Regions from separate parts of the Homo sapiens genome. Here all the other regions are linked to region 1. Evidence: fine-mapped expression QTL. A gene starts in region 1. Each other region holds a variant in brackets. All regions are shown on one strand. Distances are from middle to middle.

What was found.
Region 2: its variant is fine-mapped to the expression of FAM107B in lung (TOPMed, PIP 0.94).
Region 3: its variant is fine-mapped to the expression of FAM107B in whole blood (TOPMed, PIP above 0.99).
Region 4: its variant is fine-mapped to the expression of FAM107B in spinal cord (GTEx, PIP above 0.99). The same link has a PIP of 0.9 or more in caudate, hippocampus and putamen.
Region 5: its variant is fine-mapped to the expression of FAM107B in monocytes (TOPMed, PIP above 0.99). The same link has a PIP of 0.9 or more in whole blood.
Region 6: its variant is fine-mapped to the expression of FAM107B in whole blood (INTERVAL, PIP above 0.99).
Region 7: its variant is fine-mapped to the expression of FAM107B in whole blood (TOPMed, PIP above 0.99).

The regions. Positions count from the first base shown.
Region 1 is chr10:14,772,604-14,777,024 of GRCh38, forward strand. FAM107B (family with sequence similarity 107 member B) reads right to left here and starts at 2,294. Exons shown (of 5, transcript NM_031453.4): 1 at 1,650-2,294. The coding sequence starts at 2,060.
Region 2 is chr10:14,617,574-14,621,994 of GRCh38, forward strand. The region is part of intron 2 of FAM107B (family with sequence similarity 107 member B); the gene reads right to left. Among named protein-coding and RNA genes, the nearest start is that of FAM107B, 160 kb to the right of the region's middle. The variant C/T (reference allele first, on the strand shown) is at 1,685.
Region 3 is chr10:14,650,178-14,654,598 of GRCh38, forward strand. All of the region lies in intron 2 of FAM107B (family with sequence similarity 107 member B), which reads right to left. LOC105376429 (a long non-coding RNA gene) reads left to right here and starts at 2,570. Exons shown (of 5, transcript XR_930691.4): 1 at 2,570-2,656; 2 at 3,657-3,789. The variant T/G (reference allele first, on the strand shown) is at 2,499.
Region 4 is chr10:14,570,256-14,574,676 of GRCh38, forward strand. The region is part of intron 2 of FAM107B (family with sequence similarity 107 member B); the gene reads right to left. Among named protein-coding and RNA genes, the nearest start is that of MIR1265, 140 kb to the left of the region's middle. RefSeq lists a silencer at 2,182-2,231. The variant G/T (reference allele first, on the strand shown) is at 1,959.
Region 5 is chr10:14,656,166-14,660,586 of GRCh38, forward strand. The region is part of intron 2 of FAM107B (family with sequence similarity 107 member B); the gene reads right to left. It overlaps LOC105376429 (a long non-coding RNA gene), which reads left to right. Exons shown (of 5, transcript XR_930691.4): 4 at 4-59; 5 at 3,771-4,416. Among named protein-coding and RNA genes, the nearest start is that of FAM107B, 120 kb to the right of the region's middle. RefSeq lists an enhancer at 3,882-3,971. The variant C/G (reference allele first, on the strand shown) is at 2,114.
Region 6 is chr10:14,670,013-14,674,433 of GRCh38, forward strand. All of the region lies in intron 1 of FAM107B (family with sequence similarity 107 member B), which reads right to left. Among named protein-coding and RNA genes, the nearest start is that of FAM107B, 100 kb to the right of the region's middle. The variant A/AT (reference allele first, on the strand shown) is at 2,092.
Region 7 is chr10:14,608,481-14,612,901 of GRCh38, forward strand. The region is part of intron 2 of FAM107B (family with sequence similarity 107 member B); the gene reads right to left. Among named protein-coding and RNA genes, the nearest start is that of FAM107B, 160 kb to the right of the region's middle. RefSeq lists an enhancer at 252-301. The variant G/C (reference allele first, on the strand shown) is at 2,036.

The sequences.
Region 1 (4,421 bases):
AACTGCCGCGTGTCCTGCCTCATGGAGCCCCTCCCACTTTATCTCCCTGTTGTTCCTGTCTGGATTGTTACAATGTCCTCTCTGCTCCGGGCTTCCCAACTGTAATCCATCCTACGCTGTGGACCACCCATGGCTTTGCTCCTGCCAAGTGGACACTAAACATGGATGTGGCCCCATTTTGTGTTATTGGTTCTATTTGAATTCACATGCTTGCCTTGAGTCCCTGAGTCCCATGTGCAACTAAAACAGAAAGATAAAATCAAAGTAACCCTTTGTTCTTGCGGCTGTCTTCAGTAATATAAGGTGGGTCTGCATTGCTCAACAGAAAGTCTTCCGGTTCATTAAAACTGTACATCATTGGTACCATAAATATCCAACAAATATCAACTTGGCCATGAATTCTAATCAGCTACCTATAATACTACCAAAAATATCTTAATCTGGATGTGGCTATACACTGAAAATTTTGGTTTTTGCTGGTTGGTTATGGGCTTTGGTTTAGTGGTGCTAGAAAAAAACATAGCAGTTTTTGCTGTGACAGAGGATATGGTAAAACTCTCTGTCCAATTTCAGAATGCAGACGACAGACCCAAGCTTCAGTCATTTCATATAAACCTGCAGGGTGTCAAATGAAACTATTTTTTAAATGATGTTTTAACCCTATCTTTGCTGGTTGGCTGTGTTCTTGCTAAGGAGGCTTCTTAGATTCTGTGAAGCAAGCCAGACCAAAAAATAATTTGTTAAACGGATGTGGAAAAATGATTTAAAAAATCAGAATACTTTAGTGATGGATCCCCAAAGACTTCTCAGTTTTTTAAGTCTGGTCCTAAGCTACTTGGCTAGGAAATGACCAAAAATGGTCAAGAGATATCTTTGGAGTGTACCTTTTAGAAAACCTTTCCTCTACACTGCATCTGCAAACTGGGATTACCGGGAACTTTGAAATAATTGTACAGCTCCATCTAATCAGAATACTCAACAATTAAAATTCACTGATGCCAAAAATGGAAAGAAAATAAGTAAATAACTCTTAAGAGCAGTGGCACCATTTTTTTTAAATAACTTCCTCCTCCTGCCTTCAACTCTCAGAAGATTATCACAAAAACATCCATATTATGAATAGTTTTATAGGTCAGTTCCCTTCCGTACCACTAGGCATACACTGATGATCATTTCCAAATTTTTCCAGACTGCTTTGATATCATGTGATTCATTTTAAGTAGAGGCAGTTTTGTGAATTCCCTAGCCAAACTTTTTAGATTGTGGATTTTCATATAAATAAATTGACAGACCGGTGGGGGTGGAGGGGGAAATAGAAAAAGGAAAAAAATGTTTTTGTAAACTATCTTACTCCTAATCTGTTATTGAGTGAGCCATTTTTGGCTCTAAGGCACCCTAGCCCGTTAATTCAAGGTTACCTTCGGTCATTGCCATGGCTCCAGTGCTTATTATCATTGCCTCATCCACATCTTTTGAGAACACTCTGAGAATCTACACGGCTTTAACACACTTCTTCGCACTAGTGAGAACGCCCGCAATGCCTTATTCAGTAAGGTTAAATGAGTTTGTTTGCTGAAACATTCGCCACATGATCCCAACGCTCCTCCAGCTCCATCCCGTCTATAATCGCAGAGCGAACACTCACTCACCTTGGGCGTGTCAATAATTGATGGTCTGGGGATGGAAGCGTGAAACACCACTGCTTCACAGTCCGCCCCATCATCCAGGGACCCGGGCACATCTTCAGGCGTCTCCGCGGGCTGGGCCGCAGTGCGGTGACTTGAATTCCGATTCGCACTGCCATTTCTCTCTGCATGGGTGCTCGAATCTTGCCTTTTCTCTGGAGCTCCTTCTGCGCTTGGGTGTCTTGGCTGTCTGCCTGCTTTGGCCACAGGCTGCACACGGACGGTGGAATGAGTATCAGCCACGCCGGACTGATTGAAGGAAGCACTCTCCCTCGTATTCCCAAAACAGGCGAGCAGAGCTGAGCACGGAAATGGATGCATGCTTCTAGAGGGAGACTTCAGTCTTTTGGTGAGTCTTGCTTTCCACGTGGACATGACTTGCAGTGAATCATTGCAAAGTTCAAACGGGGCAAGGAAATTTTCCAGGGGTCCACATCACCTCCACTTTGCTTATAGGAACTCTTTCCAATTGCCCGAAGAGAAGAACTTGCTAGTGGTTGCCCCTAAATAGAAGTTGGGATGGCAAGGCCACCTTCCCTGAGAGTCACTTAGCCGCTGGGGCCCCTTTGAAAGTGTCCATCCTGGGCAATTTCGCGCTCTTCCTTCTGTGATGCTGTCAGTGGCTAAAGAAAGCTGTTGGGGAGGCATGTGAGTGGCTCCGGTTACAGTTCCTAGGCAGGGCAGACGCTTCAGGGTAGGGTAGTGCCAAGTCAATAGACAATTGCTTCAGGTTACCTAGGAGGCATAAAGATAATGTAGCCTGATAGCATCTGCCATAATAGCGTCAGCCTGCGTATCAATAACATCATAACAGCAGCAAAACCTTCTTTGGTTACCCCCCTTCAAATATTTATTCCCCCAAACAAAACAAAAACGACCCAGTTGTCCATCACAAATGAAGACCCCTAGAAGGGCCACGACCCTAGCAGCTGTTTCATTATTAAAATAGGAGGTAGACTCAATCTTTCGCCTGGAGAGATGCGGTGTGATGTGTTTTCTGAATCTTTCTGGACTTTTCGGGATCTTTCCGGAATCTTCCCGGAATCTTCCCCCCACCCTCAAAACAAGTTTCCTGGTTTCAGGATCCACATTGCCTTTTCTGATAACTATAAATAGGTCTTTGGTAATTTGATTTTTTTTTTTTTACTAGCTAGGCTAAGTTCTTGATTAGTTTTCAACAATACCAAAAAGAAAAAAGAGAGCCCTACATTAACAATTATCCTTATGTATTATGTTATTATGTGTGGAGGTATTATGTACATGTGAAGTATTCTACCTATATGGTATATATCACCTACTTTCAGAAAGTAACTCCTTTTTGAACATAGATCTTCTGTTTCTCAACACATTAATATGTGAATGGTGAAAAATAATAAATTATAAACATATTCTAAGACAATTCAGAATCAAGATTTTTCCTTAGCCAACTGTCTGCTAGGAATGTTATAGAAATGTAATACTGTAATGCTTTTACCGTTAATAGTGATTTTAGGGTCAAGATTTCTGGGCATGTTACCCACTCTTAATTAATTTGTTTGCTCTCTCTTTTAATTTAATGTCAAGATGTGCTCTTTGGCCCAGACAGGTGGTAGTTATTATATTATGGCACTGATTCCCGTTTTACAGAGGCAGAAACCAATTCTTTGAAATTTCATGTGACTAAGGCAAGTTTATGCCACTAAGAAGGGCTTGTTGGGTGCCCGAGATCCCTGTTCTCCTATCTGTCCTCTGAGTCTCATTCTATCTAACAATCATTTTATAGATGTAATGGCCATACGGGAAATATTGTTCTAAATGGACAGTCATATTCATAATACAAAAAGGCAGATATGGCTTTAGAATGAGTGGATATGGCATCAAATGCACATTTTATTTTAGTCTCTACTGAAAGTTAGAATATAGAAAGCTTCCATTTATTTAGAGGTTACCGTGTGGCAGGCCCCGTGCTATCCAAGCTGTTTCTGGCTTCCCAGGGTTGTGAGCTCATTCTTTTTTCATTGTGTCCCAAGTGCAAGCTGTCCAAATTCCCCACCCATAAGAAATCAGGGGGTTCAGGTTTCTACCAGGGTCCCCCCTCCCAGATATTCCTGGAGACCCCTCGGAACTGCACTTTGTCTCCCATTTGACTTGGTTGCTACAGTCCACTCGGGTCGGGTCGTGCCATGCTGTGCCCCTCCAAGCACACGTATAGTAAATCGGGGCTGTGATGCTGCATAAGACATTTTTGAAGGCTTGGAGGTAACAGGAAGGGATTTAAGAAAAGAAAAATGCACTCTTACACCTGGTTTCATTCACTCATTCATATATTCATTCAATTATGTGTCAAGCCCCTTTTGGAACAGAGAGTCAGCAGTTCACAGTGCAGCTTGCGAGCGGCCACATTCAGGAGACCGCTGAGGAAGAAAGCTCAGAGCCACTTTCTAGGTCTGCGGAGGCCCTGGGCTTGCATCCGGGCTCTGAGGACCACCTCTCCTCGCTCAGTGGGTGTGCTCAGAGGCACGCATGAACTCATCGGAGTTCCAGCACTGGCCCGCTAAGAACAGTAGACTTTCTGATTAGTGTGTTGCTAAGTCTGACCTAGAATAACACTCAGTAACAGGCCATGGTTATTGAGTGTTTGGTATCAGACATGAATCTCAGCAAATTAACTCATTTAATCCTCACAACCCTAGAAGAAAGGTGATATTATTATTCCCATTTTTACTCATTAGAAAACCAAGACACAGAAACTTAAGT
Region 2 (4,421 bases), 160 kb before region 1:
CGTAAGTGGCTATCTGTGTTTGAGCAGAGACAAAAGTAAAACTGTGTGCTCAGAGCTTCAACACATGTAAAGCAAGAGCAAGCTGTCCTGGTAGGGAAGAAAGGACACTGCTGCATCTAGGAAGGTGCTGTCCGGTCAGGAGTAAAGAATAAACAACTAGAGACAGTTTCAGGTAGACGCCAAAAAAAAAAAAAAAAAAAGGCCTGAGACAGGCCCATGACCCAGAGTTTGGTGCCTAATTACCATGGTGGCGCATGCCTGTTTTCCCAGCTACTTGGGAGGCTGAGACAGGCGAATTGCTTGAAGCTGGGAGGTGGGGTTTACAGGCGTGAAGCACCAAACCCAGCTTCTTGAAGTGAAATTTATATACAGTAAGATTTACTCTTTTTAGTCTACAGATCTATTAATTTTGACTCATGTAATACAGTTGTGTAACCACCTCCACAATTATCATAGGGAATATTTCACCACCTAAAAAAGTTGACTCATGTCCCCTTGTGGTGAGTTCCCTCCTCCCCACCCACAGTCTCTGCAATTTTTGCTCCATAGTTCTCCCTTTTCCAGAATGCAACATGAAGGGTATTATACAGTTCAGTCTCCTTCAGGGCTGCTTTCACTTCACAAGACGCTTTTGAGATTTCTCTATGTTCTTGGGTGTATCAGTAATTCGTTCTTTTTATTTCCAAGTGGTATTCCATTGTATTGTTTATCTCAGTTTATCCATTTACAGTTGATGAACTTGGCTTGTTTGCAGTTTGGGGTGACTATGAATAAAGCCGTTATAAACATCTCACACAGGTCTGTGTGAGAACATATGTCATATGTTTTCATTTCTCTTGGGTAAAAACCTAGGAGTGGGACTGTCGGGTTGTATGGTATTATGGGTTGGATTCTGTCCCTTGCCCCCACGCCCCCCAAAAAGATGTTGAGGCCTAATCTCCAGTCTTCGAATGTGACCTTATTTGGAAATAAGTCATTACGGGCCGGGCTTGGTGGCTCATGCCTGTAATCCCAGCACTTTGGGAGGCCAAGGCAGGTGGATCACTTGAGGTCAGCAGTTCAAGACCAGCCTGGCCAACATAGCGAAATCCCGTGTCTACTAAAAATACAAACATTAGCCAGGCATGGTGGTGTGAACCTGTTATCCCAGCTACACAGGAAGTTGAGGCAGGAGAGTCGCTTGAACCCGGGAGACAGAGGTTGCAGTGAGCCGAGATGATGCCATTGGGTACCAGCCTGGGCGACAGAGTGAGACTGCTTAAAAAAAAAATAGTCACTGCAGATGATGTAATTAAGATGAGGTCATATTGGAGTACGGTGGCCCTTAATCTGACTGGTAAGTATCCTCATAAGAGGAGACGAGACACAGAAACAGACACGCAGGAAGAAGATGGTCTTGTGACAACAGGGGCAGAGATTGGAGTGATGTATCAATAAGCTAAAGGGTGCCAAGGATTGCCAGCAAGTACCAGAGGTTAGAAGACATGAGGAAGGAAACTCTCCTATAACCTTCAGAGGGAGCTTCAGAGGGATTTAGAGGGAGCACCGCCTGTAGATCCCTTCATCCAACACTTGTAGCCACCAGAAGTGCGAGAAATAAATTGCTGTTGTTTTAAGCCACTCACTTTGCGATACTTTGTTACAGCAACCCTAGGAAAATAAGGCAGTACGGTCAGTCGGTGTA[C/T]ATTTCACTTAATGGGCACTTTTTCCCAAAGTGCCCATATTGACGTTCCCACCAGCAATGCATGAGAGTCCTGGTTGTTCTATGATCCATCAGCAGTCGACACTAGCAGTGTTTTTCATTTTAGCCATTCTAATAGGTGAAGAGTGGTTTTAATTTTTATTTTTCTAATGGCTTATTATGTTGAGCACCTTTTCATGTGCTATTTGTCATCCATATATCTTCCTTAGCGAAGCTTCTGTTCCAGTCTTTTATCCAGTTTTTATTGGTTGTGTGTATTTTCTTAATAAGTTGTAAGAGTTCTTTTACAGGCATGTGTTTTCTAAATATTTCCTCCCCATCTATGACTTCTCTTTTTATTTCCTTAACAATGTATTTTGAAGAAGAAAAAACTTTAAATTTGAAGGCTTATTTATCCATGCCTTCTTTTACGATTTGTGTTTGTGTCCTAGCTAAAAAAAAAAAAAAAAAAAAAAACCTTTGCCCAAGCTAAGCACACAATTACATTCTCTTATGTTTTCTTTTAGAAGTTTTATAGTTTTTGCTCTTACATTTAGGTCTATGACGTATTTCAAATTAATATTTTCATATGGTGCTAGGCAATGGTGTAAAGGTTGAATTTCTTTTTTTTTCATTAGTATACAGATGTTCCATTGTTTGCTTTTTGAAAGGACTATGTCTTATACATTGATGAACTTGGTAGCTTTGTTGCAAATCAGTTGACCGTGTAAGTGTCTATCTACGTCTGGACTTTCTTTCTTTCTTTTTTTTTTTTTTTTTTTTTGAGATGGAGTCTCGCTCTGTCGCCAGGCTGGAGTGCAGTGGCACAATCTCGGCTCACTGAAACCTCCGCTCCCAGGTTCAAGCCATTCTCCTGCCTCAGCCTCCTGGGTAGCTGGGACTACAGGCGCGTGCCACCATGCCCAGCTAATTTTTGTATTTTTAGTAGAGACGGGGTTTCACCATGTTGGCCAGGATGGTCTCGATGTCTCGACCTCGTGATCCGCCCACCTTGGCCTCCCAAAGTGCTGGGATTACAGGCATGAGCCACCGCGCTTGGCCTATTTCTGGATTTTCTATCCTGTTCCATGTCTCTGTATATCTAACCTTTCATCAACACCACCCTTTCTTATTTGTATTACTTTACAGTAACTCTAAAATTCAGGTTTTGTGAGTCATCTAACTTTGTTGTTCTCCAAAATTATTTTGGTTGTACTAGGCCCTTTGCTTTCATATACATTTTAGAATAACGCTGATTTTTTTCAAAATGCTTACTGTATTTTTTTTATTATTATAATTTAAGTTCTGGGATACATGTGCAGAACATGCAGGTTTCTTACATAGGTATACACGTGCCATATTGGTTTGCTGCACCCATCAACCCGTCAACTACATTAGGTATTTCTCCTAATGCTATCCCTCTCCCAGCCCGCCATCCCCCCACAGGCCCTGGTGTGTGATGTTCCCCTCCCTGTGTCCATGTGTTCTTATTGTTCAACTCCCACTTATGAGTGAGAACATGCCGCATTTAACTGATGTCTTAATATATAGTCTTCTGACACATGAACATAGTATATCTCTCCATTTATTTAGGTCTTGTTCGATTTCCTTATCAATGTTTTGTACTTTCCAGCATACAAACCTTACATACATTTTGTTAAAGTAATCCCTAAGTATTTCTTGGTTTTGATGTTATTGTAAATTATACATTTTTAGAATTTCAATTTCCAATTATTTATTGCTTGTATTTAAAAATACAGTTGATTCCCACAGATTGACCTTGTATCTTATGAACTTGACAAACTCACATATTATATTTCTTAGTCATTTTTTAAATAGTTCTTTGGGATTTTTAATGTAGATAATCATGACTTTTGCAATAAAGACCATTTTATTTCTTAGGTTCTCTGTTTTTTTAAATTTGGCATTCTTTTCAGGGAATTTCAGGGAAGAGGCATGTCCACAGCCAGTGAGGAGAGTGAGATTTGGTTTCACATTTCGATGTTTTGAAAGCAACATTAAACTGCTGTTTATATTATGTAGACTCCTTTCTTACTTTTTCTGTTTAACAGAAAAATTCTGTGGCCCTGTTATTTGTGTTCTGTGACTGACTCCTACTGCAGACTCTTTGATTCTAGATCTTAAGTGTTCAAACTATAATATTCCCTTTGGATGAAATATTTCCTCCTGTGGTCCACTTTTTAAAACGTATATGAAATGGGACATTTTGTGGCTAGACATAAGCCAACGCCACAGGGCAAGGAAAAATTAAAACAAGACATTTGATTAAAGAGTGAAGACAAGGAATTAAAGAATATAAAAAGGAAACTAATTTTTACCTTAGTCAGGCTGCAATTCTATTAAAAGAAACAGGATACATGGCCCTGAGAACTCCCCTAGGTTCCCAGACTAGAAGCATCTGTTGATTTGAAGCTGGGGAAGAGAGGAAGGAGCATAAACAAGATTTGAAACAGGATTTGGCTTTTTTTGAGGCCTTCCCAGCCGATGTGGGGTGGCACCAGCCCCATTCCACAGCTCGCTTGTTAGCTGCTGAAAGCGGAGTATAACGCTTGGAGAGCAAAAAGAAAGGGAAGGAAAAATTCTTCAGAGTAAAAAAAAATGTACAGAAGTACCTTGCAGTTAAGAGAGGGTCTGCCAAGTCAATGAACACTAACAATAAAATATGTTCAAGTTGCTCTGTGATTCCAGGTCTTTTCTCTTCCAACTAATCAGATGCATC
Region 3 (4,421 bases), 120 kb before region 1:
TTGGGTTGTAAAATCAGTCTTATTCGCATACAGTTTTTTTTTTTCATTAGGAAGGTTATATAAGCTCATTACAGAAAATTTGGAAAATAAACGAATTCATTCTTAACTCTGATTTTTTTTTTCTTTTGCCATTGAGATGGAGTCTTGCTCTGTCACCCAGGCTGGAGTGCAGGAGTGCAGTGGCATGATGATCTGCCTCCCAGCTTCAAGCAATTCTCCCACCTCAGCTTCCCTAGTAGCTGGGATTACAGGTACCCACCACCATGCCTGGCTCATTTTTGTATTTTAAGTAGAGATGGGGTTTCACCATGTTGGCCAGGCTGGTCTCGAACTCCCGACCTGAGGTAATCCTCCCACCCTGGCCTCCCAAAGTGCTGGGATTACAGGCATGAGCCACCGCGCCCGGCCTCTCGATACTTATTTAAGAGTAACAAATACTTATTGCTTACGTATTGTGCTACGTATTGAGCATTCTGGTTTAGTTCCTCCATTCCATAAAACTATGCATCAGTTGTTGTGTTCTGTACTTACAGTTATGGTAAACATTTTTATATCCTACTTCTTTCTACACAGCATTAAATCATTAGCTTTCTTTCTATTTTGTTATATCACTAAATTTCAAGAAGTCGTATATGCTCATAGTAAAAGTAAAAATAATATTTTTTAAAAACTCAACCATATTCCCTTGCTCTTATGCTTACAATGCACTCTACTCCAATTTTAGGATAAGTTCAGCGTTAAGTGTTAATGATAGTGAAGGAAACTTCTAGCGTCTGAGCTACATCCCAGAGTTCCCCAGTAGGATGAAACTCCAGTCACCAAAAATGATACTCTTCCTAATAAGCAATGCTTTATTGGCCTCTTTCTACTACTGACGCTTCCTGAGACAACCTCCAAATTAAGCAAGCTGTACTAGAATCCTTGTCTCAGGGTCTACTTCTGGGGGAACCAAATTAAGACACCACTTGACAACTTTAGCTAGTATATCATTGGCCAGCCCTATCTATAAGGAGCCTGGGAAATATTGTTTTAGAGCTTGGGCTATAACTGCACTTGACAATATTAGGATTCTCTGGCTAAAGAATATGAATATTGGATAAACATCTGGCCATCTCTGCCATGTGTGGATAAGATATATCCACACATGGCTGGGCGCAGTGGCTCACGCCTATAATCCCAGCACTTTGGGAGGCTGAGGCGGGCAGATCACCTGAGGTCGGGAGTTCGAGGCCAGCCTGACCAACATGGAGAGACCCCGTCACTACTAAAAATACAAAATGAGCCAGGCGTGGTGGTGCATGCCTGTAATCCCAGCTACTTAGGAGGCTGAGGCAAAATTGCTTGAACCTGGGAAGCAGAGGTTGCAGTGAGCTGGGATCGCGCCATTGCACTCCAGCCTGTGCAACAAGAGTGAAACCCCGTCTCAAAAAACAAAACAAAACAGATATATCCACACATAACCGTAAATTATGAGCCATAAGAAGGGGACTGGGGAGATTACTTTTTTGTAGGTACTTAATGACTTCCTTGAGACTGTAGAATTTGACTTGCACCCTCAAGGCTAGGTGGGATTTTAATAGGCGAATAGATAATCTGACGGTGTGTAGGGTTTATAAGAACAGGTAAAGCCTGGACACAGAAAGACAAGTTAGGAGATGATGAAAATGGTTTGGGTGTAAGAGAATAATAACCCAAACCAGAGTGTGATACCAAGACTGGAAAATTAGGAATATGTGTGAGAAATACAGCAAAGGAACTCAATAAGATTCATACAGAGGTGAAGTGGAAAGAAGGAATCCAACATGACCTTGAAGCTTGAAGCCAGGATGGAGGGTAGCACCATAAACAGAAGTTGTACAGTCGGAGAGAAGGGCCAAGTTCGAGGGATGTTTGTTGTCTTTGATTCTACCAGAGTTAAACATAATGTTTTGATGGAGTGAAGTCAGATCTAAAACATAGATATTCAACTTCAAATGTTAAAAAAAAAAAGCAGTGACTCTTATTTCTATACTTCATCTCAATCAAAGCATGACTTTCTATGCACATGGAAAATTCCATGAGCTCACCCTCCTGCAGAGCTCCTTCCTGACAGAAACCAGGAGGGTTAGGCTTTCTAAAGAGCACCAGATCCCAGATCCCTGCTGATAAACTCACTAAGTCAGAAAGATACAAAATCAACCCTCTCACTATAGAGAGAAATTCTCAACTCTGTCCAGATACGTATTGGTTTTTGCAGAGCTGCGGAAATAACGAAAATATAGGGGTTTGGACTCAACCAGGCCTGGACTGAGTCCTGGCTCCAGCTCTTTCTTGCCATGCAACCTTGGTTAAATTAACTTTTAAAGCTTGAGTTTTCTTACCTGCAAAGGGGAGAAAATATAGTACTACTTTCTAGGGCTGTTAAGAGAATTAAGTAAAAAATCCATGTAAAGCACTTAGCATGGCACGTTATGCATTGTTCTAAGTGTTCTAAGAACACTACTTAGAAAATGTTAGCA[T/G]TGTTATTGCTATAGTATCAAGGGTAGCGTGGATACCAGACGTTTTGTGTTCAGTTGTGAGAAAAGACTATTTAAGGTAATACGCTCCTGAATGTGCTAAAATCAAATACCGCAGCTGGACCAGATTAACTCAGGACACCACCAGTGGACTAGAATTGGTAGGAAACTGAGAAAGTTATAGTCATCCGAAGGAGTTAATGCAATTATCCATTTTCTTTAAGCCCTTTCAGGTTGTTGGGAGAAACCACATACTGTGAGCCCACTTGCAGCATAGCAGTCATGAAACGAATTCAGGCACAGAAAAAAATGTGATGCATGGACTTCTAGAAACATGGCCATCAGGGTTGAGCGTCATAACTGGCCTTGGCTGAACACAAAACCAAGAAGGCAAAACTCGCAATCCCTGAGTAGAGAGAAGGCTCCATAAATGTTGAATGAACACATGGACAAATTACACTTGTGACCTAATGGTCCACTGCCACGGTATTTACAATTAAGGCCAAATACTAGAATCAGGCCTTTGCAAAATGTGCCCTGACTTTTTGAGTCTTAGAACTGTTCTGTTTCCATGGCTCAGAAAAAGCCAAGGGCAGTTTGTTCTTTTTATCAGTTTCTCCTTGGAGAAGAAAGCTGAAAATTTCCATGATTACCATGCACACTGGAGTTATGCTGATCGAAATCTATCTAAAAGGTGCCAGGCACACAGCCAGGCGGGCAAATGCTCTCAAAGGCAATTTCACATCACCAGCCTTGCTGAGCAAGAACAGAAGCTGTTCTTCACTCCAGCCTCTCAGGAGCACACAGTGGCCTCTCAGTTCCCCTTTCAAGGAAGAGCTCTGGGAGAAAAGCCCATGGTTCGGGAACTTTTCCTGAGACCTCTAAGCACCTGTGCCATCATGGTGCAAGCTAGAACTGTTATTTCTAGCTGTGCAGCCACAGTCATCCATGTGGTTCCATTTCCTTGGTGGCAATGCACAGTTGCAAAATATTTTGTAATTATTCATTACTGAAATCACAAAAATGCCCCTAAAAAGTATAGTATTAGCCTCTTATACACAGTAAAATGTAACCGCGGGAAACTTCAGGGAATTGTGTAAAGATCACTGGGTGAGGTAACGCCCACAAGCTTGAGGCTAGTGTTTTCTCCTGTTTCCATAGCAATGACCCCACACGATCTTACCTGCTCCTCAGACCACAGCCAAGGAAGAGATTTCTGACAAACAAGCAAAAACACAACACTGTCCACACAACTGTAAATATGCAAGGAAGAGTTTCTTCTTGCCTGAAAACTGTAAGGTTTATTATTTGTTTGTGTTTCTTCCTTTCATCTCATATTTCTTCTAACGTCATAAGCCTGGCATTTAAACCCCAAATGCCTGCAGGGGCCAGGCAGGATAGGGAGGTACCAGCTAAAAAGGCAACTCCAGTTGATTTTTTTTTTTTTTCCACTGCTTAGGAATGCAGGCCTGGTTTGGCTAGTTCTTACAATTTCTCAAGAGAAATTGGAACCTAGATTTTTACATGAAATTTTCCAGTTTTTAAACATTGGCAACCAATTTTCAAAAAATTTGCAAGCCACAAAAACACATCTACAGCTGAGTTTGCTCTGGTTGTAACATCAGTCATAAGCAGTTGAAATAACCTTTCGGGTCTTCAGAATTACTTCCTATTTTCTGAATATCTGTGTGGAATATAGACCGCATATTAACCCTAATTATTAATTACAGCTATGCATTAATTCATTAATGAAAGCCATAATTCATTGGAGAAAGGTCTTTAGTAACATATTGCTGTTGCGTTTTATTATCTCTTGCTCTCATCATCTCTCTGTGGTGAAGGATAAGAAATCAGAGGTGATCTTAGCTAGTTTCGTTTAAGACTCTTAGCTGTTGTTTAAGGCTCAAAACAAAATATCTGATTATG
Region 4 (4,421 bases), 200 kb before region 1:
GTGTGTGTGTGTGTGATGTTTATCTAGGTCAACATTAGATTTTTACCCAATATCTGTGTACACCAAGGCCCAGCAGGGCAGGGTGGTTACACAGTGTATGTAGCAAGACAAGCCATAGCCACTGTGAGAATGACTGCCCAAGAGGAAGGAGAGCATTAAATCTCCTTAGACAAGTACCGACAGGTACTGGAAATGCTGTTTCCACAGTGGCCACCCAAGACATTCTCTCCCTAATCCTAACCAAGGAATAAGAAGCAAATTAAAGGCCAGGCACAGTGGCTGACGCCTATAATCCCAGCACTTTGGGAGGCTGAGGTGGGCGTATCGCTTGTGGTCAGGAGTTCAAGACCAGCCTGGCCAACATGGTGAAACCTCATCTCTACTAAAAATACAAAAATCAGCTGGGCATGGTGGCGAGTTCCTGTAATCCCAGCTACTTGGGAGGCTGAGGCAGAAGAATCGCTTGAACCTGGGAGGCAGAGGTTGCAGTGGGCTAAGACTGCACCACTGCACTCCAGCCTGGATGACAGAGTGAGACTCCATCTCAAAAAAAAAAGAAGTAAATTAAACTCAGCACATATCAGTGTTTTGTTGTGGTCATGTGTTCATTTTTTTTTTTTTTTAATCCACAACTGTGAAGGAGGAGGTGATGGCAATGAGCAGAATGCTTTCAAATCAAGTGCTATTTTGCTAAAATCAAATATGTCTTAGCTCAGGCTGCTATAACAAGCTGCCATAGGCTGGGGGCCTTAAACAACACTTGTCTATTTCTCACAATTCTAGAGGCTGGGAAGTCCAAGATCAAGGTGCCAGCAGATCGGGTGTCTGGTGAGGGCTCCCTTCCTGACTGGCACACAGCCACCTTCTGGCTGTGTCCTCACATGGTGGACAGCAGGGAGAGTGAGAAAAAAGCTCTCCTGTCTCTTCTCCTGGAAGCACTAATCCCATTCTCAGGACTCCCCAAGGCCCCTCCTCCTAAAACCATAACATAAGGGGTTCAAATTTCAACATATGCATTTTTGGGGGTGACACACACATTCAGATCATAACAAGTACTTCAAAATATATTATCAGGCCTACAATCTTCACTAGATAGTCAAATTTTACTGGAAATAGATATCTTCAGAGAAAATGCATAATTATCAGGATCCTAGACACTTAATAGAGCATGGATAAAATAATGCAGATAAAAGTTAGTGAATCCAAAAAGAGTTCTTAAAAAGCTAAGTAAAAGGCGACTCATCCAGAGTTTGACAGACATGGTTGGCATCTGAAGAAATTTTAGGAAAAAAAAATAGTTCACAACTACACAAGACACAGCCTATTACAAAGCTCTCTTCCTGGCAAAGACACACTATTCAATACCACTCACTATAACAACATATAATTTTTATTTAGTCTCATACAAGTCTGCTATTGTGTTAACAAGTCTAAGTTCACACAACATTTTCTAGAGAAGGACTACATTATTCAACAGCCATAGAAAAGTCCCAGTGTTTATTCTTACCTCAGATATCTATTTTCTTGTTTATGTTTTAATCATGGGCATTCAAGGTGGTGAAAAATCATCCTTTAGCAAGAGAAGAGTTAGCCCAGGAAGTCATCCCCATCCATGTCACCCATCAAGGCCTAAGTGACGAACGGTTACAGAGACTGACCTAACCTCACCTCAGTAGATATAGGCAGGCTCCTTAAGCCCAAGGTAGCAAATAAAAAGATCGCAGTAAGAATGCACCTTCTGACTGTGGTAGTTCCTTAGAGCGGTGAAGAAAAGCACCCAAAACAAGAATTAACCATCCCCACAAAGAACTCTCTTTCTGGATATCAAAAGAGCCACAGTTCAAGTTCAAAGAGAAACACTCTAGCAACTTCTGAAAGCAGGAACTGTATGCAACTGAATGACCTCATCCGGCACAGAAGCCAGAGCAAACAATGAAAAACAAACCGTACCAACTCTG[G/T]TACCAGTTACTGACCTTCCAGACCAAGAGAACGTGCTGGCAGCACTGGTGAAATGTACTTGTCTGTACAAAAATCAGCTCCTCTACTTGTAAGCAAATATGCACGCAGACTCTCCAGCCCTGGGTGGGTACCAGGTTGCAACACTCACACAACCTGACTGCAGGAAGCATGCGTGAGTCAACCTCCAATTGGAGGAGGACAAGTTCTCGCACTTCTTAGAGCATCACCACAACACCTACAGCATGGAGGCCTGAGACCAATCAGAATGGCCCTCCTGAGGCTGGGATTCATGGCATCACAGCCCACTTTATAAAATGTGCTAAGAATTTTCTATGGGGAAGGGTTATGTTTAACATGGCGGAAGACAGGTGCGGTGGTGTGCACCCGTGGTCCTAGCTACTCCAGAGGATCGCTTGTACCCAGGAGTTTGAGGCTGTAGTGCACTATGATCACATCTGTGAAGAGCCACTGCATTTCAACCTGGGTAACACAGAGACCCCATCTCTTCAAAAAAAAAAAAAAATTTATATATATATATATATATATTAGAGTGTGTGTGTATATATGTTATGTATAGGTGTATGTAGATATACATATATATTAGATTGGAAAAAAACGACAAGCAGAAGGGACTTGAGTTCCAGTCCCAACTCTGCCCAACTATATCTGTATGATCTCTGGGCTGAAGGATCCTCCCCTCTAAAACAAGGAGTTTCCTTCCAGTTCTAGATTGTTATTACTATATTATTAGGAAATAGCAAATATATACCAAAGCAGCAAGAGTGGAATTACCATTGCAGAGGCACATATAGACGCCCACTTGGTGACATCTGGCCCACAAGTACATTTCAACTCCTGCACCAAGCCCAGTGCATGGCAGACACCAGCTACCTCCCAGTGCCGCAGCCCTGCTCAGTCAGTGCACTGTGGAGAGAAACAGGCTTGGTGGAAAGCTCTGAAAACTGTCTGCTATGGTTTCACTCTGTCCCCCAAAGTTCATGTTGAAACTTAATCCTCAATGCAACAGTGATGAGGCCATAAGGGCTCCACCTCATGAATGGATTAATGCTGTTAATGTGGAAGTGGGATATAAAATGGAAGACTTCGGCCCCCTTCCTCTTTTGCCCTTCCACCTTCCACCATGGGATGATGCAGCAAGAAGGCCCTCACCAGATGCAGGCCCTCGACCTTGGACTTCCCAGTCTCCAGAACTATAAGAAACACATTTTTGGCTGGGTGTGGTGGTTCACACCTGTAATCCCAGCACTTTGGGAGGCCAAGGCAGGAGGATCACTTGAGGTCAGGAGCTCAAGATCAGCCTAGACAACCAACATGGTGAAACCCCATCTCTATTAAAAATACAAAAAAAAAAAAAAAAAATTAGCAGGACATGGTGGAATATGCCTGTAGTCCCGGCTACTTGGGAGGCAGAGGCAGGAGAATCACATGGACCCCAGAGGCAGAGGTTGCAGTAAGCTGCATCACCCCACTGCACTCCAGCCTGGGCAACTCCATCTCAAAATAAATAAATAAGTAAATAAGTTTCTTTTCTTTGTAAATTACCCAGTCTGTGGTATTCCACTACGGCAGCATAGAACAGACTACAACAGCATCTATAAACAATGCTGTTTGACTCACACTTGATTCACTTGGATTCCTTCCAAATGATCATTGTGGATACATGATATAAAAACAAACAAACAAAAAAAAAAAACCACCCTAGGGCCCAGGAGTTTATCTGCTCTTTCTCTCATAATCTACCCTTCCCATGACACAGGGAATATTTTGGTGCTCTCAACATGAAATGCCACAAGACCAGGGTAGACACTTAAGGGTTCAGCTTCCAAGCTCTGCTTATAAAAAATGCAAAATCTCAGTTCAGTAAGAACAGGGTTTAGTACAATACACAAACACTACTGAATATGCATGCCACCCTGAGAAAAAATCTTGAATTAGTATGTAATAAATAGATAACAAGGTGATATTCCTCAGGCATCCTGACACAGTTATTCCCAACTGAATCTGTAAGAGTGAACTGTTACTCTTTACATTCTGTACCCTGAGACATCACAATATGTATGCACGGTGGATATAATCTATCCAATATCTCAAAACTGAACCCTAGTTTTGTTGTTGTTTTAACCTACACATTATTAACAAGGATCTTCAGTAGGACATTTTGCAAACCAGTACAAATGTGCCCTGGGCAAACAGCATTTGGGAAACACTGCTCCCACATACACTTGCAGAGTTCCTGCCAATCAGGAGCTTCCACCGTCACCCAAGTGTCAGAACAAAGCCCATGTGGCTGATCACAACTGTCCACCTCTTGGCAGCCCATCAGACTAGCAGGCCAGACATACTGTTTTTATCCAATGGACCACAATTGGCCAAGAGACGAGACTGAGAAAAGGCTTAGCACACAGACCTCTCACAGATTATTAGTACATTTCAGTCAACTC
Region 5 (4,421 bases), 120 kb before region 1:
TAGATACAAATTCTGGAGCAGCAACTGATTTACCAGGAAACACTGAGGAGTAGAGCAAGGTAAGGTGGCTCCTACACCACTCCGAACCAGTGTGGGGCATGGGGGCGATAAAGAGGCTGACTTCACAGGGAACTTCCAGGGCCAAAATTTCACTTCATTTGAAGGTTTTCAGGAAAACATGGGTAAATTGCAAAAGCAACGCCAACAATTACCATCTTTGAGATTTGAAAACTTTGGATTTTCTCTCTTGGGAGGCTTTGTGACCACCAGTTGAAATTTCTAGATGACAATTTCCACCTTCCATGTCATCAGAATGGAAGGAGAGGTGCACTCCAAGGAGACAAGTGACTGGACATTCGGGTTCCTGGCATGCAATACAAGTTCTTCTTTTTATACCAATGTGGGGGAAGGAAGTGAGAAGTAAGAAGTGGGTAGAGAGATTCCTCCAGGATGCAAACAGTTAAAGATCATCACTTTACTTCTGATTTTGGATGTTAATGTCACCTTCAGAATTCCTCCTTCTCTAAGAAATTTTTACAAAGGGCCAACATTAAATTTTAAACAAACAAATAAGAAAATAGTAAAAGAAAGTGAAAGAGTGTAGAAACGCAGCTTGCAGCACACACAAAAAATTAGGCAATTCTGCTTCAATTTGTGCACACTGAAAATTTCATTCCTGGTAACCGGTAACTGGTTCACCTTACAACCTGGGCAAACTTCTGGAAAGTTCCATGCCTCCATTCCCACTGTGTTAAGAGGACATAGGATTGGATGGAGAAGAATAGGTCATACTAACTAGACTACTGAGGTGTCCCATGGGCATGTGAGCACAATGTCAAGGCTAAACAGCTTGCTGCACAGGTGCAGCTCAGCTCCTCTTTAAGGCACATGTGCCCAGTCCATCAACACCACATCAGGCTCACCTTGAATACAGAGGACTAAATCAAACCCTCATTTTAGGTATTTTTGTATTTTCCCATTTATGAACAATAAATGATCTGTTAAATTTCCTAAACAGAAAAATCTGGAAGCAATTTGCTCTCTGCCCATGTAGAGAGGGGAAAGCACAGACTGCTCTCCAATGACTCTGAGGAGGATGAATGACAGGGTTTCCAAACCCTGAGTGGTAACACCACTTAACAGATTCGGCCTAGGAGGGTGCTTTGTACTTGGAAATCCTATCTCATTAGCCTGACACCTTCTCAAGGCAAAATGGCAGAGGACTGGACACAGATTGGCACATCTTGAAATAGGCAGGCCAGGAAGTCTCGTTCACTTCAGACTAGGAGCATACCATTGCTGGCCTTACCCTCCCAAAGACAGACACCTCCAGCCCCAAATCTTCACCCCCACCCCTGGTCACCAGAGAAACATCTCCTTGGATTCCAGGGCAATTTCCACAGACTTAGCATGTGGAAATAAATCTAGAACCTAGATGGAAAACCAACCAACTTTCTCCTACTTACACTTAATAATGCAAGATTTATAAATGAGTTCTAGAAACATTTTCTCTTTGTTAATATATATTACAGCCCGTGGCCTCTTGTTCACTGGTGTTTTAAGTTCTTGGAACAGGGATTGTATGACTTTCATGTCTATGTTCTTCTAATAAACCTCCAGCAACAAGCATGTTGCCACCTTCACTTTTTTTTTTCCTTTTTTTTGAGGCTGGTCTCACTCTGTCGCCCAGTCTGGAGTGCAGTGGCGCGATCCCAGCTCACTGCAGCCTTGGCAGCCCAGACTCAAGAGATCCTCCCACCTCAGCCTCCCAAGTAGCTGGGACTGCAGTCACACACCACCACACCCGGCTAATGTTTTCTCTTTTTTTGTAGGTTGGGGTTTTGTCATGTTGCTCAAGCTGGTCTCCAACTCCTGGGCTCAAGCAATCCACCCACTTCGGCCCCCCAAAGTGCTGGGATTACAGGCGTAATTAGCACCTGGCTAACCTTCATTTCTTGGGAAGAATTTATACGACAGTGAAAATCCAATTACTATTATTTGAAATAGAGACAAAATGTTGAGATTCTTTAGACTAAAATACAAGCTATGATAGTTGAGTCCCATAAAAGAGTTTAGAGGTCAGGTCTTCACTGAAAGTCATCATCTACAACCC[C/G]CAGGAGCATTTCCCCTAAGAAAAGACTTCCTGTGACCCCACAGACTGTCCTACGGTTAAGGGAACAGAAAGAAAGTAAACTCAGGACAAAGGAAGTCTATTTAGCATCTTGAAGGCAAGACCCATGTCTGACCCATGTCTGACTCATCTTTGACTCTCCGTGGATTAGCATGGTTTGCTTTATATGTGTTAAGTACCCAAATAAACAACAGTTTTTACATCAAAAGTCACGTTGTAAACCAGACTCAATCATTCATTCATGCATGCATACTTTAGTCAAACAACCATTACTTTTCAGTTCCTACATAGTCCAAGAATTGTGCGAGGAGCTGGGGGCAGAAAACAAAGAGAAAAAGACGCAATTCCAGTTTCTGACTCATCTGCTTCACTTGATTTAGCCAAAAGGCCAAGAAGTGATTGATTCATCTACTTGCTTCAGCAAGTTTAAAAAGAGCAAGGGTTCATTCCCCATTTAATAAATATTCACTGAGTGCCTCCTATATGTCAGGCTCCATCCTAGGCATTCATTATGTTTGCAGCAGGACAAAAAATGGTCAAACATCCCTGCCTTCATGATGCTTACCTTCTAGAAGGGGACGACAGACAAAAAGCAAGTGAATTATATAATGTGTGGATAGTGACAAGTGGTTTCAAAAACCAAAACAAACAAGGAAGTAAGAGTTGAAGGAAAGGTTGCAGTTTTGCAGAAAGTGGTCAAGGAAGCTCTCACTGAAAACAAAGACCCAACAGAAGGAGCTGTGCAGACCAAAAAGTCCCATAAAGAGTCTGGGGACCAGGTCTTCACTAAAAGTCCTCTACTATCCCCAGTAGCATTTTCCGTAATTAAAGGCCTCCCATGAACCCTCAAACTGTCTGCCCTGGCTGGGCACGGTGGCTCACACCTGTAATCCTAGCACTTTGGGAGGCTGAGGTGGGTGGATCACCTAAGGTCAGGAGTTTGAGACCAGCCTCACCAACATGGCAAAACCCCGTCTCTACTGAAAATACAAAAATTAGCTGGGCATGGTGGCGCGCACCTGTAGTCTCAGCTCCTCCGGAGGCTGAGGCAGGAGAATTGCTGGTGGGGAGGGGGCAGAGGTTGCAGTGAGCTGAGATTGCCCCACTTCACTCCAGCCTAGGTGAAAGAGCAAAACTCCGTCTCAAAACAAAACAAAACAAAACAAAACAAGCAAACAAAAAACTGTCTGCCCTAAGGTTAAGGGAATGGAAAGAAAGCAAACTCAGGATAAGTTTCCCTTCTTTTTTTCTCACCTTCCTACCTCAACTGTTTTCTGTTCATCTGTGGCCAAAGACTCAGAAAAATCTGTATGGAAGATAAACAACTCTTGCACAAAATCAGAGGGGTGTGTGACTGAGATATAGTGGGTTCTGGTGGAAACTGCACTGTTGACTGTTCTCCCACGACATGAAAGTAAAAGCAGACACTTTGTCTGAATTGTCAGAAAATGGGTCTCGTTTTGTCACCTCCTAAGATGCCCAGCAAGGAGATCTGAACTCCAAGTGTCATGGACCTTCCCGCAGAGGGGCTGGCCTTATGTGCGCAGCAACAAGGAACTGCTCAGTGGAACCCCAGTCTCACTTCCCCACAGAAGTTACAAAAATACTTATTTTTTTTTCTCATTTCATCCATTTTTAGGTAAAGAATTTTAACTGTTTGGGGTTCGTTACTTCACACTTAAGAAATCTACAAACCACAGGAAATGAAACTTGACTAAATGCAGATGACACAGACAGCCAACTCCGAAAATGTGCTGGGCTCCACTCAGTTCTAGGTGACCTTTAGCAAAAAGAGGGTGTTCTGATGAAACCCTTTGACCATAACCAACAGCCTCCAACTTACAGGATTCTCCCCTCGTATGACCAAGTGGTGTAATCTTTGAGGTCCTGGCAGCACAGGTTGAGTGCAACCTAAAAGAGAATGAGGATTCCACAAGGTCTTCTGGAATGGTACACTTATTGGAAACTTGTTTCAGCATTCAAAAAAACCTGGCCTGTTTCTAAAGCAATGCATGGTTTAAGAGGAATGGCAAATTGAAGCCAACGTTTTTCAAACACATTTCACTTAAAAAAAAATGGCCACTAGAAAGAATGCAACTTATTTTCAAAAAGAATTATCTCAAGAAAGCATGGTTGGCCCATTCATCCATCTCCCTGCCCACAAGGGAATGAATGAATGAAGACAAGATGTGCCACCTCTGAAAGACTGTTAATCTCCCTCTCTCTATAAAAGTGGTACTATGTAATTTCTACTCATTTGGTTACAAATAAAATTAGTAAGTGAAGGATC
Region 6 (4,421 bases), 100 kb before region 1:
GCATGTAAAAAAAATCACAAGTACCCCATGAATATGTAAATATTATGTATCAATAAACATGTTTTTAAAAAGAAATGTCTTTCTTAATTCATAAAAACTGGTTTCATTAAATTGCCATAATTATCAACTTAGAAGTGAATTGATTTCACCTGTGTTGGGAACAAATGTTTTTCCAGAGATCAAAAATCATCTCCAAATATTCATCATCAGAGACCATTTCTAAAAATGTGTCCTACTTTTAAAACCCATAGAATAGTATTGGCATAAGCAATTTGGGTAAATAAGGCCTCAGTTCAATTATCTCAAATGTATGTGTTGTAAGAAATTTTAATGAAAATTGCCTCCAAAATTACATATTTGAAGTGGGTATGAATTAATAGTATACCAAAGAATGTGTAAATAACAGAAAAGCCCCATCACACAGCAAATAAATGCAGTAAGTCATTTCTTGTTTCACAAGGCCTGACAGAACAGTATATAATGAAAACATGAGGAATTATTTTATAATACAGCCACAGGGGAAGTCTCTTGAGAGGCCAAAATAATCCAAATAAAGTCATTTTCAAGATGAAAAGACTCTCCCCTTTGAGCCAGTAAGACTGTTTACTTTTTTATTGCTCTGAATTCCAGAACTGTGAAATAACATAGCCCTTTAGCTCTTCTCCAAACATATTTATTACTCCATCTTAAATAGCCCCTCCCTAAGGTTTCCCTTTGACTAGTAAGAGTTGCAAAGTCCCGCAACAATCTGCAGAGGGAAGGATGTTGGAAATGCTCTTGGTTGGAGAGCTTTCAGCACAGAATAAACAAGCATCTGTCCTCACTAGTATAAACTATGTTCTATTTAGAGAAAAGAAGCTGAGCTCCTTCAATTCTTGTGTCTCTTCTCTTCAGCGCAAGTCTGCAATTTGCTGAATGCGTTCGTAGTGGCTTTTTCCCAGCAAAGCTAGAATAAAATGACAACAGTCCAACTGTAGTAGACATCTGTTGATTTTGCTGCCTAGTACTCACTGACTCACTATCTAGTAAGTGTGTCCTGATTTCCTCTTTAAAGCCATCTCATCCCATCTCATCCCACTCTTAAAGAACTGTGGTTTTCTGTGCTCCGTGAAACCGACTCCTTCCCCACCATCCCACTCCAGGGGTGCAACATATGACCCAGGCCCACGCCCATCAGTCTGCTGCATTTCCCTCTGATTGGTAGAGCGGCTATGTTGTTCCAGGACTGTTCCTTAGTTCAGCTAAAGACAGAGTTCTTTGTCCCATGGCCACGAAAATTAAGGCTTGCAGACAATTTGAAAAGGCTCGCCAACAATTTGAATGGTGAGTAAAACAGGGTTTTATTGGGTGAAAAGGAAGAAAAGGGGGAAACAGGGACTCTTACTAGGTCAGAGTCCCTGCTACAACCCTTCCTGTTGGAATCCCAGGTTACACACAGGAAGAGGAGGGGCCAGGCTCCTCCCTGATGCAAATGGCACGAGCTTCCCGAGGCTCCACCCCAAGTGGGCAGGCTGGTTGGAGGTTTTCTGGGGACCCCCTCCCATCTCGCTGTCTGAATGTGACACACTCAGGGTTAGTGAGACCTAATGAGATTTTTCTCTGGACTTCTGGGAAAATGACTCCTGTTCTTATTATCCACTGGCCCTGAAACCAGAGACAGGGGTTGCAGCTGCTACTGTAGGCACCACCTTGTTATCACGTGCGGCTGAAACTGAAGCCCACACAAAGGAAGGCAGAGCCAAGAGATGCTCCAATGCTTTCTTCTGTTGATATCAACTAAGCCCCAAATTCAGCCACGCCTGAAGCAAGATTAACCCTGGACTTTTCCGCATAAGGCAGCTAATACACTCCCTTTTATTTAAAAAAAAAAAACAAAAAAACAAAAAAAAAACCCTCTATTTCTTTTTAAATCAAACTGATTCCTATCAGGTTTTCTGTCACTTCTAAAAGAATGAGTCCTAACTGATACACCAGTGTAAGAACTCCAGCTCTGGGAAATCAGGAGTCAGGCATGCATTGGTTCTGTACATTGGTTCTGTACCTCCCCTGCCATCATGAGTTTTTTTCTTTCTTTTTATTTTTTATTTATTT[A/AT]TTTTTTTTTTTGAGGCAAAGTCTTGCTCTGTTGCCCAGCAGTGGCGTGATCTCGGCTCACTGCAGCCTCCACCTTCCAGGTTCAAGCGATTCTCCTGCCTCAGCCTCCCGAGCAGCTGGGATTACAGGCACCTGCCACCATGCCCAGCTAATTTTTGTATTTTAGTGGAGACGGGATTTCACCATGTTGGTCAAGCTGGTCTCAAACTCCTAACCTCAGTTGATCTGCCCGCCTCGGCCTCCCAAACTGCTGGGATTACAGGCGTGAGCCACTGTGCCCGGCCCCATCATGAGTTTTACAATGCTTATTAAATCAAATGTGACCACGATGATGTACCAAGAATGTACTATTAAAATTTGTCAAACAAATGGACTTTTCATTTACAGTCGTGTGTTGTCACTTTACAACATGAATATGTGTTTGTTTGTGTTTCTAAACATAGAAAAGGTACAGTAAAAAGATAGTTTATAACCTGATGGGACCTCCATTCTATATGGGGTCTGTTGCTGACTGAAACATTATTATATGGCTCATGACTGTATTTTCCTTGAGGACTAATCCCAAGATGCCTCATTGAAAGGGCATGTGAAACCACACTAAGTTTATACTTAGGGAGTTCAAGGTAAGATTTTGGTACAAATTAGCTTCTTTTCCTAAGGTTCACCTGATTGAACATTAGTAGAAATAAAGAAAGAAGGAAGGAATAAAAAAACTTAAAAACACGAACCAAATACATTCACCAATGTACATCAAGTCATTTTCCTTTGGCCTCATAGTTGGCAACATTGGGAGTTAACATTTCACTCTAGGGCAGCAAGTTTAGAAGCAAAAAGGTAGTTTGTTGGAGACAGAAATAGAATTCCTGACCAATAATTAAAGAGGCTTGGTTCCATTCTTTTAAATGGACACATAATAATCATAGATATTTATGTGTACATGTGATATTTCAATACATGTATACATGTGAAATGAGCAAAGCAGGGTAATTAGCCTGTCCGTCACCTCAAACATCCATCATTTCTTTGTGTTAGGAACATTCAATATCTGTTCTTCTAGCTATTTGAAAATATACAATAAATTATTGTTAACTAGAGTCACCCTGCAGTGCTATAGAACACTAGAAACTATTCCTTCTATCTGGCTGTAATTTTGTACTCATTAACCAACCTCTCCCTATTTTTCCTTCCCCCTAACCTTCCCAGCCTCTGGTAACCACTGTTCTCCTCTCCACTTCCATGATACCAACTTTTTCAGCTCTCACATATGAGTCAGAACATGTGGTATCTGTCTTTCTGTGTCTGGCTTATTTCACTTAATATAATGTCCTCCAGGCTCATCTATGTTGCTGCGAATGAAGGATTTTATTCTTTTTTTAAATGTCTGAATAGTATTCTATTGTATAAGTGCCACATTTTCTTTATCCCTTCATCTGTTGATAGACACTCAGGTTGATTCCGTATCTTTGCTATTGTGAATAGTGCTGCAATAAACACGAGAGTGTAGATATCTCTTTGACATGCTGATCTCCTTCCCTTTGGATGCATACCCAGCAGTGGGATTGCTGGATCATATGGTCGTTCTATTTTTAGTTTTTGGAGAAAACTTCATACTGTTTTTCATAACGGCTGTACTGTAGGAGTTCCCCTTTCTCCGTATCCTTTTCGGCGTTTGTTATTTTTTTGTCTTCTTGATAATCGCCATTTGAACTGGGGTGAGATGATATCTCATTTTGGTTTTGATTTGCATTTTCCTGATGATTAGTGATGTGGAGCATTTTTTTAATATACTTGGCTATTTGTATGTCTTCTTTTGAGAAATGCCTATTCCAATCTTTTGCCTATTTTTTAATCAGATTATTTGTTTTTTGCTTTTGCTTTTTGTTTTGTTTGTTTGCTGTTGAGTTATTTGCGTTCCAAGTATCTCTAGAAAAGAGGGCATCCACATGCAGAAGAATGAAGGTAGACCCCTATCTCTCACCAGATCCAAAAATCAACTCAAAATGCATCAAAGACTTAAACGTAAGACCCGAAGCTATGAAACTAGGAGAAGAAAACATAGGGAAAACACTTCAGCACATTGGTCTAGGCAAAGGTTTTATGGCTAGTACCTCAAAAACAGTCAACAAAAGCAAAAATAGACAAATGAGATTATATCAGACTCCAAAGCTCCTGCACAGCAAAGGAAACAATCAACAGAATGAAGTGACAACCTGCAATTTGGGAGAAAATATTTGCAAACTATTGATCTGACAAGAGATTAACATCCAGAATATACAGGGGCTGTGTTTTTAAAACCCCTTCTCAGCATTGCTCCCTGGGGATGGAGTCCT
Region 7 (4,421 bases), 160 kb before region 1:
GCTTGGCTCTGTCATGTGTTTGCAGTCAACTGGGAGGTTGGCCAGGGACTGGCTTGCCCTGGGTGGTCTCAAAGTCCAGAAGTTGATGGCAGCTGTCAGCTCAGGCATCTCAGATCCACTTGTATGGCCTCTCAGCAGGCTAGATAGGACTTCCTCACACAACAGCCCCGTCCAGGAGGGCGAAAGAGGAAGTGGTAAGGCCCCTGGAGCTCTAGCGTTATGGGTCTAGAAGAATGATAGAAGTCTGTACATTCTACCATTAAAAATGTCACAAGGTCAGCCCAAATCCAAGATTTGGAGAAAGAGACCCCCCTTGATGGTAGAAGCAGTAGTCATATTGCAACAGGGCTTGAGTGCTGTACTAGGAGAGGAGGAATTCTTGTGACCATCCTTGCAAATAATCTTCCTCTGAATCAGACATGAGGAACTACAGAATGGAGGGCAAAGTAACAGGTGCTAACAATAGTCTCAAGGGAAATCTTTCTGATGATAAGACAAAAGCACTTTGGTATTCAACATAAAACCCACAAAGACAGATACAATACATTGGTATTGGCCTCATGGCCTCAATTGATAGGTCAAAGAAAATAGTTAATTTCTGCTTATTTGTTTTTGGTTTAAATAAGAAAAAGATGGGGGAAAGAAAAAACAACAAACGCTTTGGGACTATAATGCAACTAAGGTGCATTGGGTTCTAAATCAGTGTTTTAGATACCTATTGCTGCATAACATCTTACCATAGACTTAGTGGCTTATAACACCCACATATTGACTCGTCCTTTTTTTAGTCCAGAAATGGCATGACTGGGGTCTATGCTGAAGGCCTCCCAAAGCCAAAATCAAGATCTTGGCAGGGCTCATAGTTCATCTTGTCTGGAGCTCAAGGTCCTCTTCTAAGGTCATTCAGATTGCTGGCAGAATTCAGTTCTTTGTGGTTATAGGACTGAGGACCCAGTTTCTTTGCTGGCTGTCAGCTGAGAGCTACTCTCAGCTGCTAAAGGCTAAAGGCTGCCCAGAAACCTCATCATGTGGCCCTCCCCATCTTCCAGTCAGCAGTGTCTCAGCAAATCCTTCTATGCTTCCAATCTCTGACTTGGCCATCTAGGGCTCTAGACTCAGACTTAAAGTGCTCATGTGATTAGGTCAGGCACACCCAGATCATCTTCCTATCTTGACAGGTAACTGACTTGAGACCTTCCTTACATCTGCAAAATCCCATCACAGCAATAGCTAGATTAGGGTATGACTGAATAACTGGAGAAGTTGTGTGTATACCAGAGGCCAGGAATTGTGGAGGCTATCTTAGAATTCTATGACAGATGGAAGGACAGGCAAACAGACAGATGCTCTTTAATATAAACATAGAATGTGAGGGCAGGCAGAAGGTGGAAACCTTGGAGAGGTATCACATGCAGAGCTCAGCAGTAAACCAGGAACCAGGCCTAAGAAGGAATTCTTATTGAGTAATAACCGAATTCCCACATGGTCCGTTCAGTGGTTACCAAGTCTTCATTGACCCCTGATGACCTGAATACTGAAAACAATAGGGAAAGGAAAACGAAGTTAAGAATATGGCATCTAGGCCGGGCACGGTGGCTCACGCCTGTAATTCCAGCACTTCCGGAGGCCGAGGCGGGTGGATCACGAGGTCAGGAGATTGAGATCATCCTGGCTAACACGGTGAAACCCCATCTCTACTAAAAATACAAAAAATTAGCCAGGCATGGTGATGGGCGCTTGTAGTCCCAGCTACTCGGGAGGCTGAGGCAGGAGAATGGCATCAACCCGGGAGGCAGAGCTTGCAGTGAGCCAAGATCACACCACTGCACTCCAGCCTGGGTGACAGAGCAAGACTCCACTTCAAAAAAAAAATAAAAAAGAATATGGCATCCTAATTTTATCATTTAAATAGCATAATCATGTAAATATAACAGAAGTCCCTTTATTTTGCTTAACTGTTTTGCACAATTGTTGTATGACGTTAATGTAATATTCCATAACTCAGGAAGATAATGCCTTTCAATAAAGAGACTTA[G/C]AGAACTCATTTGTGGAAAATCTTTGTGAAAAGTTGTGTGGTTTGCCAAGCAAATATAGCACATGCATACCTTTTTAAATTAATAGTACTTAGGAAGGATCAAAATGATATGCCCAAATCTGAAAGAACATGCTAGAAACCAGATGATAAGCTGTTTCATTAAAAGAGCCTCTGTGCATGAGCATTTGTGATCACAGGAATGGAATTACTTCATTAAATATGCTAACAGCACCAACAGTAAAGATGAGTATTGTCCCCTGCAGTAGTTATCCACTACAAAAGCATTTTGCAAGCTCCAAAACAGAGCTGTATTTCATAATGTAACTGAGTACTTTGCCAATTCTAGAGAGTTTAAAAATTCAGGAGAGTTTTATTTTCCAAACATTTAATATATGTACTGCCTAAAACACTTAATTTCGTTTTTAAAGAACACTTGCTTTTCATTGTTCACAATTTTAAAATCAAAGGGACTCTATGAAATGGTGGTTCTAACTTGTAACTGCACATCGCGAAGAATCGAGAGAAACAGCTGTTACTCACATAAACGACTACTGAATGATGCAAAGATCTGCATTTTACGTTTTTTTCTTTACATGAATCCAAAACCAGAAAAAAGGATTTCCTGAGAGTCTTCCTGTGTATTAAAACTAAAATCTCTAAATAGCAAAGAGAGGGGAACAAAATCCTTAAGCGCTCATCCTGTCAAAAATATTAAGGTAACTTAATGGTCGACACTAATGAGTAAACAAACCATCTCTGCAATTAAGCAATATGAAGATAATTTCTGTAAATTTCCTAATTCAAATAACTGACATACAATACAAATGGCCAAATTTCTGTGAACATTCTACAGTTTGCTCCAACTTTTTTTTCTTCTTTCTGATATTCGCTCTAGATACAGACATTTCCATTAGCGGGAAGTATCCTTTGGAATGCTTATATTATTAATAACTAGTTGAATGCCAGTTTTATATATATATATATATATATATATATATATATATATATATATATTCACCTAACTTCTATTAATTGCAATAAAATAAGTTCATGGAAGAATGGAAGGAAGGCTAGGCTAGGACTAAAGAGATCTGCCTGGTGACCTCGGATAAGAAACTTATCCAAAGCTTCAGTTTCCTCTGGACTTAACAGTAAATGAATTCATAGTTATTTCTGTAGTCCAGAAGTGGCACGGCTGCATTCTCTGCTGAAGGCCTCCCAAAATCAAAATCAAGATCTTGGCAGGGCTCATAGTTCATCTCGTCTGGAGCTCAAGGTCCTCTTCTAAGCTCATTCATTTATAAATATGTATAAAAATATATATGCATAAATTTTTCCTTGCTAGTTATTAGCTGGGAGTCACTCTCAGCCACAAAATACATATATTTATATATTTATATCCTCATACATATAAAACATTTATATGTCCTTATACATGTGTGTATATGTGTATGTGTGTGTATGTATGAGTATAAATATATATACATGTTATATACATAAGTCCTTATTTATATAAAAAGTTCCAGCTTTAGTTGTTGTGCTCCCCAGGCTTGTCTGGAAGAGAGAGCTGTGTGATCCACTCCAATCTTAGAAGTAAAGTTCAAACTGCAGCTAATGTTAAATCGTGCCAGAGAAGGTTTACTTATTAACTCTGCTTAGAGAAGTGTGTGACCCACACATTTGAACTGCTAATGATTACTGGACTTTTAAAACTGCTGTTCAAGTAATAACATTCTTCTATTTGTTCCACCAAATTTAACATGAACTAAAATCCTAACTAATGTTAGTGTTAGCTGGATAATATTAATAAAAGTTGGAACTTTATAAGGAAAAAGAGAGAATGAATGCATGATGGAAGGACAGAGTCCTTGGGCAGCTGAGGGCAGTTTCTGGAAAGGTTTTGCAATTCTCCTTGTTCGTCTCTCAGTTGCCATCAGCACTCAGAACAACCTGCCCTGTCCTTCCTTACTTACCCTGTCCAAGATTCCAGCTTGTTCTGGTGGCCTCCTTTTTCTAAGTCCACAGCTAACACACATTGCAGGAAACTGTACTTTGACAGGCACCTGCTTTTCTCAGCTCATTTCTCTCTGCAACAATTGCTTCAGCCATTTGCTATCATTTGTATCATTTCATACACAAATAATTACAAGGACAAAATAAAGAAATACAAAGATATGATAGAACTGTCCTTGTCTTTGACAGACCAAAGAAAATAACAGACCTTTGTCCAAAATGATAAGTGACAGGCTGAGAGACAAAGACACACAGAGAAAGAACAAGTAAAAAAGACTGGGAATAAAAATGGAGACATAACTGTAGATACCCCAAAACTAAAAACAGCATACAAAACCATGATGAGCAACTTTGTCTGGAAATGCAGATGAAA